Homo sapiens: one gene and its partners. The protein of the gene in region 2 purifies or fractionates together with the protein of the main gene of each other region. This does not show direct contact. Each region holds a gene or a part of one and is shown on either strand. Other genes may lie near its edges.

What was found. Proteins that work in one complex are often made in the same cells at the same time.
Region 1: the proteins of AHCTF1 (region 2) and NUP37 purify together in Homo sapiens (affinity purification with western blotting; 2 studies listed by BioGRID and IntAct, with this or other methods). This does not show direct contact.
Region 3: the proteins of AHCTF1 (region 2) and NUP133 purify together in Homo sapiens (affinity purification with western blotting; 3 studies listed by BioGRID, with this or other methods). This does not show direct contact.

Annotation. Positions count from the first base shown.
Region 1 is NC_000012.12:102,072,576-102,075,138, forward strand, and holds the end of NUP37 (nucleoporin Nup37), read right to left. Parts: intron 2,520-2,563; coding exon 2,426-2,519; intron 1,893-2,425; coding exon 1,779-1,892; 3' UTR 528-1,778; downstream 1-527. UniProt on the Homo sapiens protein: Component of the Nup107-160 subcomplex of the nuclear pore complex (NPC). The Nup107-160 subcomplex is required for the assembly of a functional NPC.
Region 2 is NC_000001.11:246,928,945-246,936,967, reverse strand, and holds the start of AHCTF1 (protein ELYS), read left to right. Parts: upstream 1-5,019; 5' UTR 5,020-5,390; intron 5,391-5,609; exon of another isoform or gene 5,610-5,640; coding exon of another isoform or gene 5,641-5,660; exon of another isoform or gene 5,661-5,741; coding exon of another isoform or gene 5,742-5,839; intron 5,840-8,023. UniProt on the Homo sapiens protein: Required for the assembly of a functional nuclear pore complex (NPC) on the surface of chromosomes as nuclei form at the end of mitosis. May initiate NPC assembly by binding to chromatin and recruiting the Nup107-160 subcomplex of the NPC.
Region 3 is NC_000001.11:229,439,732-229,442,365, forward strand, and holds the end of NUP133 (nuclear pore complex protein Nup133), read right to left. Parts: intron 2,310-2,634; coding exon 2,173-2,309; 3' UTR 528-2,172; downstream 1-527. UniProt on the Homo sapiens protein: Involved in poly(A)+ RNA transport. Involved in nephrogenesis.

The sequences.
Region 1 (2,563 bases), on a different chromosome or scaffold from region 2:
GAAATGACAAATTCTTGTAAGAGTCACTATTGATAGCCCTTTGGCTATCCTGATGCTTTTAGGAATCCTTGCCCCATCACAGAGATTCTTAAAGAGAACCATGTCAAAATTCCTTGCTCTTTGCTTTTTCCTTTGTTAGTTCAAAATCTTCTTATGAAGGGGTAAACAAAACAATTTATATCATTTGGTTATAATATTTAACTGTATTAAAAAATTGACTAGGAAATTGCTATAAAATTTTTCATCTGTACTTTAAAGCATGTAAAAGTTGAACCCAAACATCTACATGGTTATAAAATTTCACTGAATTCTTTCTTTTAATTACCTGGAACATTCTCCTATCTCTTAAAAATATAATGTTCTTGATTCTACAATTATTTTAAGACACCTTAAGAATAGAAAACTGGAGTAAAAAATATTTACTGGCATTAAACATAAATCTCTAAAACCTCAAAAATAAGACCTACTCATCTCTGAAATAAATAATTTCTATACATCTCTGAACCACGTGACAGACACATACTAGGTATTTTCATTCACCTTTATTTAATCTTTACAGCAACTCCACAAAATAATGATTCCTATCTGTACTTTACAAGAGGAAATGAAGCTTCAAAAAGGGCATTAACTTGCAGGAATGGGCAGTTTGTCAAAATGTATTGGATTCTGTATGTGACTGACAAGCAGAACCATAATTTTATATGCTTCTGACTGTACCATGATGTATCCCAAAAATGTGATACAGCTGTCTTAGATAACGTTGATTTTAATGATCTTTGAGAGGGTGAACACAGTTCCATTGCCAACAGGTCCCATCTCAAAAACACTTAAGTTTCTTGGTAAGAACAGTGAAAATTCACAAAAAGGAGGCTGTTAAAGGTATACACTAGAAGTCATTTTTCAAGGTAACTTTTGATCCCATATATCAGATGTTCTAAGACTGTTAGAACACCTCGTCCAAAGGAATCTGCGTATAATAAACAGGGTTGAGCAATATAATCAATCACATATTTAAGAAACTGAAAACAATTTTTTACATTAAATTGAGTACACATACACATATATATACTCAACAACCACTTCCAGAATACCCTAAGATATTTTTTTCTCCTTGGATTTTTTTTCTTTTGAGATAGTCTCGCTCTGTCGCCCAGGCTGCAGTGAAGTGGCACGATCTTGGCTCACTGTAACCTCTGCCTTCCAGGTTCAAGTGATTCTCCTGCCTCAGTCTTCCAAACCATGCTTGGCTAATTTTTTTTATTTTTATTTTTTTAGTAGAGATAGGGTTTCACCATGTTGGCCAGGTTGGTCTTGAACTCCTCACCTCAAGTGATCCACTCCCTTCAGCCTCCCAAAGTGTTGGGATTACAAGTGTGAGCCATTGTACCTGGCCTTTTTTTCTCTTTTGATAAATGTGTCCCTGAGAATTAGAAAAACAGCATATACTCAAAGTATAGAAAACAGGATACACTTCAAATACTCCTTTTTTGATAAACTCAAAAGCATTATTTTTCCTTAGTCATCTCTTCTCTGGAGGTGAGCTGCTGAGTCAATATGATTTTGTAAGATTAAAAATATATATATATACACACACAGAGAACAGAGTAGAAAAATAATTTTTCAAACCATCAACATTTTATTTAATAAAAGCAACTGAGACATTTTCTAAAGTATACGGTATATTTGATATAAAAATTCTTCAAAATATGTACTATAGAAATTCTTCAAAATATGTACTAAAAATACAAAGTTTGTGAATCTAAGGTACAGAAAACACTTTATACTTCAGTCACCCAAAACAACAGCTTGTGGTCTCCTCCAATTACACACAGAGGGAGAGTTCGATGCCAGGACAGTCCAGATCCAACGGCTACAGAACCCATGAGGATGGGCTATAAAATATGTGAAGAATTAAAGAAGCACAGTAAGTCCCCAAAATTAATAAATAAAAATGACTTTCAAAAATATGAAATGCATTGATGATTTATCTTTGTAGCATAAACAAAATTTAAAAATATGCTCCCTTACAGGTGAAATACACATTATTGATACGCAGCTGAAACATGGGATACAATCCATCTATGAATAACTGGTACAGTCCAGACTCCATTTTTGCAGTCTACACCAACCAAACAAGCAAAATTAATGTATTTAAATAAAGAAGAAAATATAAAAGCAACAGAATAAAAAGCTTCTTATATGAATACTGGCCAAAAAAACCTGTTGTCACTGGTAATGTAAACATCAAAAAAAAACCACACAAAAAACAAAAACAAATGAACCACCTTTTCTTGCAATTTAAGCAGATAACAAACGTAAATGTCTTCAGTCAACAAATTACAAATTTGGGGCTATGAGTGGAAAAGTCAAAAACACAAATTAAAAAAAAAAAAAGCACGTATGTTACAAAACATTTCCACATTACCTGAGGGTGTCCTAAATGATGAATTTGAAACTGGCTTGCCATTTTGCCAGGATAACCAGTGGTTGCAAACAGATTTTCACTAATTGTGGACCACCTAAGAAATAAGGAAGCGTAAAATTAAGTATCGTATCCTATGGA
Region 2 (8,023 bases):
GAGAGCCTAAGAGGGTAAAGGTAAAGTTTTGCTGCCCCTACAATTTTTTTTTTGTTGTTGTTGTTTTGTTTTGAGACAGGGTCTCTTGCTCTGTCACCCAGGCTGGAGTGCAGTGGCACGACCACCGCTCCTGCAATCTTGACCTTCCAGGCTCAAGTGATCCTTTCACCTCAGCCTCCCAAGTGGCTGGGACTACAGGCATGTACCACCATGCCCGGCTAAGTTTTGTATTTTTTGTACAGATGGGTTTTTGCCATATTGCCCAGGCTGGTCTGGAACTCCTGGGCTCAGGTGATCTGCCTGCCTCATCCTCCCAAAGTGCTGGGATTACAGCTGTGAGCCACTGCACTTGGCTTATTTTTTAAACAAAACAAAAAATCCATCCCAAAAAATTTGTAGCAAATCATTTGACAATTCATTTCACCACCTATAAAATAAGGTGTTTGGCCTAGAATATCTCTAAGGTTCCTTATAATCTAATATGGCATATTTTGCTTTGTTTTTTTTTTTTGCATATTTTGCTTTGAATGATGAATTATTATTTGCTCAGTCACTAGACAATGATTTTAGTATTTACGCTCTGGCCATTGTGCCATCACTGGACATAGAGTGGGGAACAGGAAAAATATGATTGTTCATTCACCTAGTTTATTGTCAATTGGAGAAATCAAGGGTGGGCACTGCTTGCTATAACCAATCAACTGCACAAAAATGATGAACATGTACCTGTTAGGACAAAGACAGTTTTCTCTGCTCGAGACAGATAAGCTCCATTTTTGTTGTTGTTAAAGTAATAAGGCTTTCCCTGTTACTTTGCAAAACAATTGGAGATCTAACTCAGAACGCTTCAATGAAGTCCTGAATTCCCTGAAATCAGATGGCCGCTAGTCACTCCCAGGATGCTGGAATGGTATTAAAATATTGCCTCTTGGCCGGGTGCAGTGGCTCATGCTGTAATCCCAGCACTTTGGGAGCCCACGGCGGGTGGATCACTTGAGGTCGGTAGTTCAAGACCAGCCTGGGCAACATGGTGAAACCCCATCTCTACTAGAAATACAAAAATTAGCCAGGAGTGGTGGCACAGGCCTGTAATCCCAATGGGAGGCTAAAGCAGGAGAATCGCTTGAACCCGGGAGTCGGAGGCTGCAGCGAGCTGAGATCATGCCACTGCACTGCACTCCAGCCTGGGTGATAGCGTGAGACTCCATCTCAAAAATCAATCAATAAATAAAATTTTTAAAAATATTGTCTCTTGAATCAAATATTCCAGATGGAAGCATGAGGATTTGTACCAGTTATTATCCATTTCTAGGCCTTTTACCAACATAACTTAGGACCATATAGGTGAAAACGGAATGAGGTTCTAAGGAAGGCATGTACTTCCCTTTCATCTTTACAACAGTTCTGCAAAGAAAGTGACATTATCTTTTCTTCTTAGCTGAGAAAACAGGCTCAGAGAGTGAAGTAATTTCATAAAAGTCATGTTGCTAGAAAGTAGTGAAACGCAGTAAACCCAAGTTTGTCTGGCTCCAAATGATTTCATTATTTTCACCACAACATGCTTCTTCCAGTGAGAGAAAGCTTTGAAGCCGTGTTTACCAGAGTCTGTTCTGTGAAGCACTAATAAGGCAAGATGTTACACAAGTGCAAATGGATGCCATGGTCAAGCAACTCTGGGGAATGCCAAGCATATTAAAGCCAGTGAAGTCTTACAGAAAATACATTTTTATTTTTATTTAATCAGCTTTTCCCCCAAACTCATTTGATTACCAAATCTAGATTTTTCTTCATTTAACACTTATTAACATCTCTTGAAACCAATTAAAATAATCTGGTATTTGCTTAGTTAAATGTCTGAAAGAAAGAAGAAAAAGGATTGAATGAGAGCTTTAAATTGGAAATTCAGTTTGCAAAGCAACTAAAATAAAAAACTAGCAGTTATGGGGGAAGCATTTTAAAAAGATACAGTCTGTGCTCCCAGTGCAGCTGGGAGATGGAGATGGTGGGTGGATGGAGAGAGTCAGAGGCAAAAAGGGAAACAGACATGAAACAATTCAGACAGCATATTTCGCTCAAGTTTTTAGTGATTCATGTGGGCTGAAGCTGAAGAAAAGATTGGGAAGAGGAAAGAGGCTTGAGCTGGCCCCTGAGGGATGTTAAGATTTACTCAGGGAGAGAAGAGGCTGGGAGACACTGAAAGAGAAAACAGGTTTGGAGAGTTAAAAAACAAAACAAAACAAAACAAAGCTCAGGAACTATATAGGGAAATAAAATACGACAGGTAGAGTTGGTCTAGATTATGGACAATTACACAGGCCAGGCCAGTGTCTCACGTCTGTAATTCCAGCACTTTGGAAGGCTGAGTCCAGCAGATCACTTGAGCCCACAAGTTTGAGACCAGCCTGGGTAACATGAAGAAACCCTGTCTCTACAAAAAATGCAAAAATTAGCTAGGAGTGGTGGTATGCACCTGTAGTCCCAGCTATTTGGGAGGCTGAGGTAGGAGAACTGCTTGAGCCCAGGAGGTCAAGGCTACAGTGACCCGAGATTGTGCCACTGCACTCCAGCCTGGGTAACAGAGCAAGACCCTGTCTCAAAATAAGTAAATAATAAAAATATAGACAATGATACAGAAATCATTCTGTTGATAATGATGGAAAGGATTAAAATCTGAAAGACTATGTAGACAGTCAATCTGGATAATATGTGCAATTAAAATAGATTTTTGAATTTCACAACTGGAAGGGCTCTTAGAGCAAAGTTAATAAATATCTGTCTAATGAATCAGTCAATCCCTTGCTCTACACATCTGATAACTGAAGCCCAGAGAGGTCACTTGATTTTCCTAATGTCACACAGCTCACTAGCAGCACACCTGAGTTGATAATTCATGTCTTCTGACTATCGAGAGGTACAGTACTCATGAACTGGGCATAAAACAGTGCCAAAGAAAGTGTAGAATATGGAGCATGTGACATAAATCAGCACATCCAACAGAGGGTGGTTTCTGTTTGAAGAGATCTCTTTAAAATAATTAAGACAACGAACCCCAAACCTCCTACTGCAAAAGCAGTACTCTTTTTAACTGTTTCTATCACAACTTGGTCCAATACCTTGTGCAAACAAACATGATATGTATGGAGGTTGCTGTTACTAAAGAAACAAAAATTACAGAAAAAAGAAAATTACATTTCCAAAAGGCAGCATTATCTCTGAAAGAATATGGGCCAGGCATGATATCCATGCCTGTAGTCCCAGCTGCTCGGGAAGCTGAGGTGGGAGGATAGCTTGAGCCTAGAAGTTGGAGGCAGCAGTGGCACTGATGAGGCCATAGTGCCTGCGAATAGCCATGCACTCCAGTCTGAGCAACACAGCAAGACACAGTCTCTACAAAAATAAAAATAGGCTGGGCATGGTGGCTCATGTCTGTAATCCCAGCACGTTGAGAGGCTGAGGCAGGAGGATCTCTTGAGCCCAGGAGTAGAGACCAGCTTGGGTAACACAGTGAGACAGTCTCTACAAAAAATAAAAAATAAGGCCGGGCGCGGTGGCTCACGCCTATAATCCCAGCACTTTGGGAGGCTGAGGCAGGTGGATCACGAGGTCAAGAGTTCAAGACCATCCTGGCCAACATGGTGAAACCCTGTCTCTACTAAAAATACAAAAATCAGCTGGGCATGGTGGCGCACACCTGTAGTCCTAGCTACTCTGGAGGCTGAGACAGGAGAACCTCTTGAACCTGGGAGGCGGAGGTTGCAGTGAGCCGAGATTGTGCCACTGCACTCCAGCCTGGTGACAGAGCGAGACTCCGTCTCAAATAAATAAATAAATAAATAAATAAATAAAATAAAAAAATTAATGGGACGTAGTGGCGCATGGTGGTCCATGCCCATAGTCCCAGCTACTTGGAGGGCTGAGGTAGGAGGATCATTTGAGCCCACGAGTTCGAGGCTGCTGTGAGCCTTGATTACACCACTGCACTCCAGCCTGGGCGACAGAGCGAGACACTGTCTCAAAAATAAAAAAATTTAAAAAGCACATATGAAAGGTAACAGAAAAGTAGAAACTTTCCTGATAAAAGAGCATCTTCTTAAAATCCCTACTCTACCTCATGTTATAATCCTTTTACTTACTACTTAGTATTAAGGATACGTTCCCTATCTGTTTGAAACATGTTTGGCGCTGGGATTTGCTTCAAAGGAAGATACTAACAAGAAATAAGAAATTCCACAATGAAAACCCGCGGTGACCAAAAAGATAACAGTGATTTGGGGTAAAATTTTGACTAAAAAGATTAGGCTAGGCTGCGCGAGCATTTTTGGCCATGAAAGCACAGGAGGATGCTAGAAAAAACAGCACCGTGGAAAAAGCGTTTCCCCAGAAGTCTGGGAGCCCACCTTTGGCATGAAAAGCGGGAGCACAGGTTGTAGTGAGCCAAGATCGTGCCACAGCACTCCAGCCTGGGCAACAGAGCAAGACTCCGTCTCCAAAAAAAAGAAAAAGAAAAAAAGAAAAGTGGGAGCACAGAACAGAAAATACAGAATGCAAGCTGCCAATTATGGGAGAAAGATTATCACTCGGCCCCCAGCTGGCAGGGCCACACGATTACGTGACAAGAGAGTCCGCCTGCAATCGCAGCAGGCGGCTGGCAGAGCCCGGCGCGACCCCCAGCGAAGACTACCACTCCCAACTGCGCACGGGGCGCGCCGCCGGGGCCGCCAGGGCGGCTTCACGCGCAAGGCACTGTGGGACTCGTAGTCTTTCTCCCCACCAGCTCCTCGGAGGCGGAGAGACCCGATTTTTTTGTAAATGATCCGCCCTTCCAGGCCCTGCTTCTCTTTCCTCCCTTTCCCTCCCACCTCCTTCTTTCACCGAGAGTTTGAAAATTCCCGCGGAGCCGGCGCTAGAGCGCGGAACCATCGCGAGAACTCTGGTCCCTGCAGCCGCGATCTCCCGCCGGTTCTCCCCTCCCTCTCCGCCCTTTCCTCTGCTCCCTCCCTTCCGGGGCGTGTGGAACTCGGTTTTGTCGGCGCAGGGTAATGCGCAGAGCGGGGCCGGCGCTGTCCGAGGCGAGCAGGCAGCGTTGCAAGGGGAAGGACCCAGAAGCGCGGCGGGAGCAGCGACTGCGTTTTAGCCGCTGAGCGGTCTGCAGGCCTACAGCCCGCGAAGGCACTCTCGGGGGCGTGTGGCTCTGAGGTGGCCGGGGAGGTCGCAGGCGGCGGCCGGAGCGCAGAGGAGCGGCTTCAGCCGGGCGGAGGGGTGTGAGCCCGGCCCGTGGCGGCCACGTCTCCCGGGAGATGCTGTGACGGACCCGCACGGGAGGAGCTCGCGCCTGGCCTGGCGACCCGGTGGACTCGGCCCGCGGCGGCGCGCTCACCCGCCCCGTTCAGGTAGGGGGAAGGGAGGGAGGGGGTTGGGCCCGCGCGGCGGAGGGCGGGTCGCGCGGCCTGGACCCGCGGCGGCGGCGGCGGCGGCGGCGGCGGCGGCGGGGCTTCTGCCCCGCGAGCGCCGGGCCTAGGCCGGGCGTGCGCGGGGCCAACGGATGGGGCTCGAGGGGGCGAGCGGTGGCGGTGGCGGGTACGGCAGGCTCGCGGGCGCCGGGCTTCGTTACATAATCTCGGACCGGAGGAGCGGCGGCACATGGCGGCGGAGCGGCGCTGGTGGTTCGCGTCCTGCGCCGGCAGTCGGGTCCCTTTACGGACGGCCGGGGCCGCGACCCTTTCCCACTGTTCTCCCACGCGATGGACTCGTTGGCGGGCCTTTCCCCGAGGGAAGCGGCCGGCGTGCTGAGCCTGTCCTGTGTTGGCGTGTGTTCCACATGCGCTTGGGCCTGGCCACAGTGAGTAGTCCTGGCGGGGAAGAAGTTGGACTCGGGGCTCAGCCGTGAGGTTCCAGCTCACCCGATTGGTCAGATCAAGGAGATTTAAAATAAAAGCACATCTTGGGGTGCTTTGCCTTCCTTTTTCCTACCTGGGAAACAGGACGGTTTCTTTTGCCACTGGTTGACTGTTTTGGTTTGGGTGTTTTGTTTTGAGAGATGGGGAAATTTTGTTCTCAAAGCTTACGAGGTTCATACTATCTGTGTGCAAAGTTTTATGAGATGAGCGTTATTTTTATTTCCAAATCGTCAGTTGTAGAAATTTTTGGAAGAACTGGGTTCTTCATAGAACAAAACGTAAATCCTTTGGGGAAATCCTAAACGATATTTATTCTCAGAATATCCTAAAGAACCTGTAGATTTTAAGAACTGTCTTTGGCTGGGCGCAGTGGCTCCTGTCTGTAATCCCAGCACTTTGAGAGGCTGAGGCGGGAGGATCGCTTGAACCCAGGAGTTTGAGACCAGCCTGAGCAACATGGCGAGACCCCCCCTTTTTTTTTTTTAAACTGTTTTTTTGTGAGCTTTCACTGATAGAGTCTCTTAGGAGAGAAGAAATTAGAGTGGTTTACTTATTTCGGAGGATTTGACCTGGGATGACAAGCCCAGTTAAGGTTAATACTTGAAGGGATGTTTTAAGTGTGCCAAGCGCTATGGGAAGTCTACGTTGTCTCTGTACTGTGATTTTTGGATCCTGATCCTTCAGTAACATACTACCAAGCTGTCACGAGTTTGCAAACAACAATAATTATCTTGAAAAAATTTTTAAAACATCATGTCAACCGGGAATTGGTGGCGCCTCTAGTCGCGCGCCTACTTGGGAGGCTGAGGCGGGGGGAACGTTTGAGCTTCAGCCTCAAACTGAGAGTTCGAGGGTTGCAGTGAGCTAGGATCGCGCCGCTGCACTCAGCCTGTGTGACAGAGCGAGAACCTGTTGCTAAAATAAAATAAAAAAGATCGTTATACATCAGTTTTGAGACTTTTGTTTTCTTTTTATGCTTCTCCTTTTTCATAGGTACAGATACATCTTTTTTTTTTTTTGAGACGGGGTCTTGCTCTGTTGCCCAGGCTGGAGTGCAGTGGCACAATCTTGGCTCACTGCAACCTCCGTCTCCCAGGTTCAAGCGATTCTCCTGCCTCAGCCTCCTGAGTAGCTGGGATTACAGGCGCACGCCACCACACCCGGCTAATTTTTGTATTTTTAGTAGAGACGGGGTTTCACCATATTGGCCAGGCTGGTCTTGAACTTCTGACCTCGTGATCCGCCCGCCTTGGCCTCCCAGAGTGCTGGGATTACAGGCGTGAGCCACCGCGCCCGGCTGGTACAGATATATTTTAAGAGGAAGCAAAACGTTGTGTCTTTCACGCCTACCTTTAATATTTTCAGGGACTTTTCTTTCTTCCCAGAATGAAGTGTAACTTCCCTCGGTTAGCTCAAAGGTCTCTACAATAAGTATATGCTACTGTCTATCCTCATATGTTAACAAATTTTATGCTTTTGCTATTCCAGAATCGTCATCAATCCTGGACTCATTCTGTGGAAGAGATGTTTCCACTCTGATGTTTCTTTGCTCATGTCCTTCATCCTGGAGTGCCATCTTTCCTTTTTTAAATACTCAAATTTCAGGTCCTCCTTCTAAATCCAATGTTTTCACTGTATTTTTATTTTTATTTTTATTTTTTTGAGACGGAGTCTCACTTTGTAGCCCAAGCTAGAGTGCAATGGCGTGATCTTGGCTCACTGCAACCTTCGCCTCCAGGGCTCAAGCGATTCTTGTGCCTCAGCCTCCCGAGTAGCTGGGACTACAGGAACGCGCCGCCACACTCGGCTAATTTTTTGTATTTTAGTAGAGACGGGGTTTCACCATGTTGCCCAGGGTGATCTCGAACTCCTGAGCTCAGACGATCTGCCCACCTCGGCCAACCAAAGTGCTGGGATTACAGGCGTGAACCACCGCACCCAGCCCACTGTACTCTTTTATTTCCCCTTATCCCACTTTTTTACTGGGATCTCACAGCATATGTACCTCTATTGTAGTAGCATTTATTCTTTGTGTCTGATACTCTGATAATTGACTATATATCTCCTTTTCTAGATTGTAAACTCCTTAAAGTCAGGAAGAAGGTTATCTTCTTGACCTTGCATTC
Region 3 (2,634 bases), about 17 Mb from region 2:
TTTGTAGTTAGCCTCAAAATGTCCAGGTGTGTAGGATGTAGGTGGGTGATGGTAGGAAAACTACGATTCAGCCCCTAAAGTAAAAAAAGAAACACAGTTCAATCATTAAAAATGAAAGCCCTCAAAGAGAGGCGTCAGTAGCCTTTACCTCACTCAGGAGTTCAGCAAGTTTTTACTGTCTATCTCCAGGTCTGCTGCAATCCTTGACACCATTCTGTCCACAAATCCTCCAGACGCGCCAGTCTCCATGCCTGCGTACACTCCCCTCTGCTCAGGATCGCACACGACACTTTACTCTTGTATTCTGTCAAGGTCCCAAGCTGGGACTCTCAGGGCAGCACTTATAGACAGGTGTGATCACGAACCTTTTCCAAGTCAGTAAAGTATCTCTTTCCACAGAAATGTCAACACAGCATCTGTATACTTATCAGCTACTTGATTTATATAAAAACCATTAATAACTCGTTGATGAAGACTACGTTGTGAAACCAATTTTTAAAATTCTAGAGAAAAAATTATTCAAAATCCTAGGTCTTAATTTCATTTTTACTGTTAAAATAATTTTTAAAAACTCAACCATTTGGGTGTAATAGCTACTAACTTAGAGAGAAACAGGATTAAAAGAGGGAGCTTTTTCTTCCCTTGAACAGGATGACTCTACTTCACACGGTAAGAGCAGTCGTTCTACGTCCACGCGATCAGTGGGTTCTGGGGCATGATCAGATGGGCTTTCCTGCGGTACTGTCCCATACACCAGGGATCACCAGGTTTGCAGCAGCACGGGAGGGAGATGGGAGCCTGTGTGTCTCGCAGCACATTATCACCCGACAGGGTCCTACAGGTGAGACGTGAACACTGACAGCTGACCTCCACGTAAAAGCAAAGCCTCATCTTACGATACAAGTACTCAGCGGTTTCTTACTGGCCATCTGACAAGCTGCTCTTCCTAACTTCTCTTAGTACCTTCCAACATGTTCCTAACCCAGACCCTAATGCTGTCCTAACATACAAGCTGCAAAGAGAAAAAGAACAGGCTGCTAATTTCTTCCCTTTGATTTACAAACAGCTCCATTAACCTGCTCTTCCAAACATACTCAAGGGCTGGCCTTGCAGCCTGCGGGGGAGACGGCCTGATGCTGGGCTCTGTGAATCCAGGAACCGGACTCTTCACCATGTTTAACTTCTGACCTTTTCAGCTGCTGGAGCAAGATGGTTAGTGGGCATTCTACTGGGCCAAGCCGCGGACATGCCAGCAACTCCCTGTCCAACCTCTGGCCTTTATTTAAAACCCAGATAAACATTGAGTGAGTGATGACACTGGTCAGGACAAAGCTCTGAGAGTACAGTACCTTTCAGTCACATCAATTGCCATATTAGGAAAACCTATAATGGTTTCTAGTATCATTCATGCTTTTGACTAGCTAGGCAGACTGTGGTAAAGATTCATGAGTCATTCTGAAAATACATGAGGCTGGCTGAATCCCCACACTGAAAGATTAGAACTAAACATCAACAGTAATTTCTAGATAGGTTAGAAAACCACATAAACGTTTCATTCACTAAAATACTTTCATTAGTGCTCATTTATTATTTATGTAGAAAAGTTTAAAATGCTCCCAATGAGTTCATCAGTTATCAAGCTCACATGAGTTAGGCCCACTCTCCTTTGGTTTTTCATCTCATAATAAGTCAGCAAAAGTTGACATTTATCTTACTAGACATTTCCCATTAGCCCTAACTGAAACAGATATCAAACACCCTAGATTCTCTTCAGTGCAAAGTATCTGGAGTCACAGCAATTTTAGAGACAAGCTAGTGCAATCTAGTAATTTTCATAGTCGCAGAAACTGAGGCCTAGAAGTGATTTGTACATGTGAGCAGCTAGAACCAGGACAAGAACTCCAGAACCTGGGACCACGTGAGAGTAAAAAGAAAGGGCACCGAGTACAGGAACAACAACTGACACATTTCAGGTGGAAAAAACAAGTCACATAACTGAAAACCAAAATCACAGTTACATAACTATTTTATATTAGCTTCCTACATATAAAGTATAAAAACTCAGCTATACATGTTATGAAATTGTACAAACTTACACTTGTTTATGGCCTAAAATTTGTATAAGGACACACTTATACAGATTTCATAAACAATGGCCATTTTTAGAAAAAGTTATATTTGTCCCTGAACATAATATTCATAATTTGCTTTCAAAACAAACTCGAAGTAAGGATTGGACTTTAAGCTTCCAAGCTGATCCGCTTGTAGCAGGTCTTTCACCTCCGGTAAGTACTCACTGAGCTGAATGCCTATAAACACAAACACAAGAAGTCATTTTTCAATTATTATAAAATGCTCAAATGAATTCTGATGATTGATGACAAAAGCACCTGTGCTTCTATTTAAATATAACGTCACTTTGCTGTTGGGAAATACTCTCTTCTAAATTCCTTCCATCTGTCAAACATACTTTCAAGTCTAACAATGTGATATCCTTTACAGGGGCTGCCTGAGTGTTTTTCCCTCCAGTGGTCAAAATAGCCATTCTATTTAAAGTGTTTAATAAGATCTGAAACGTTTTCATGTATTCCCAAGCTTGAAAACAAGTATTTCAAACACTTATATGATCCCCTA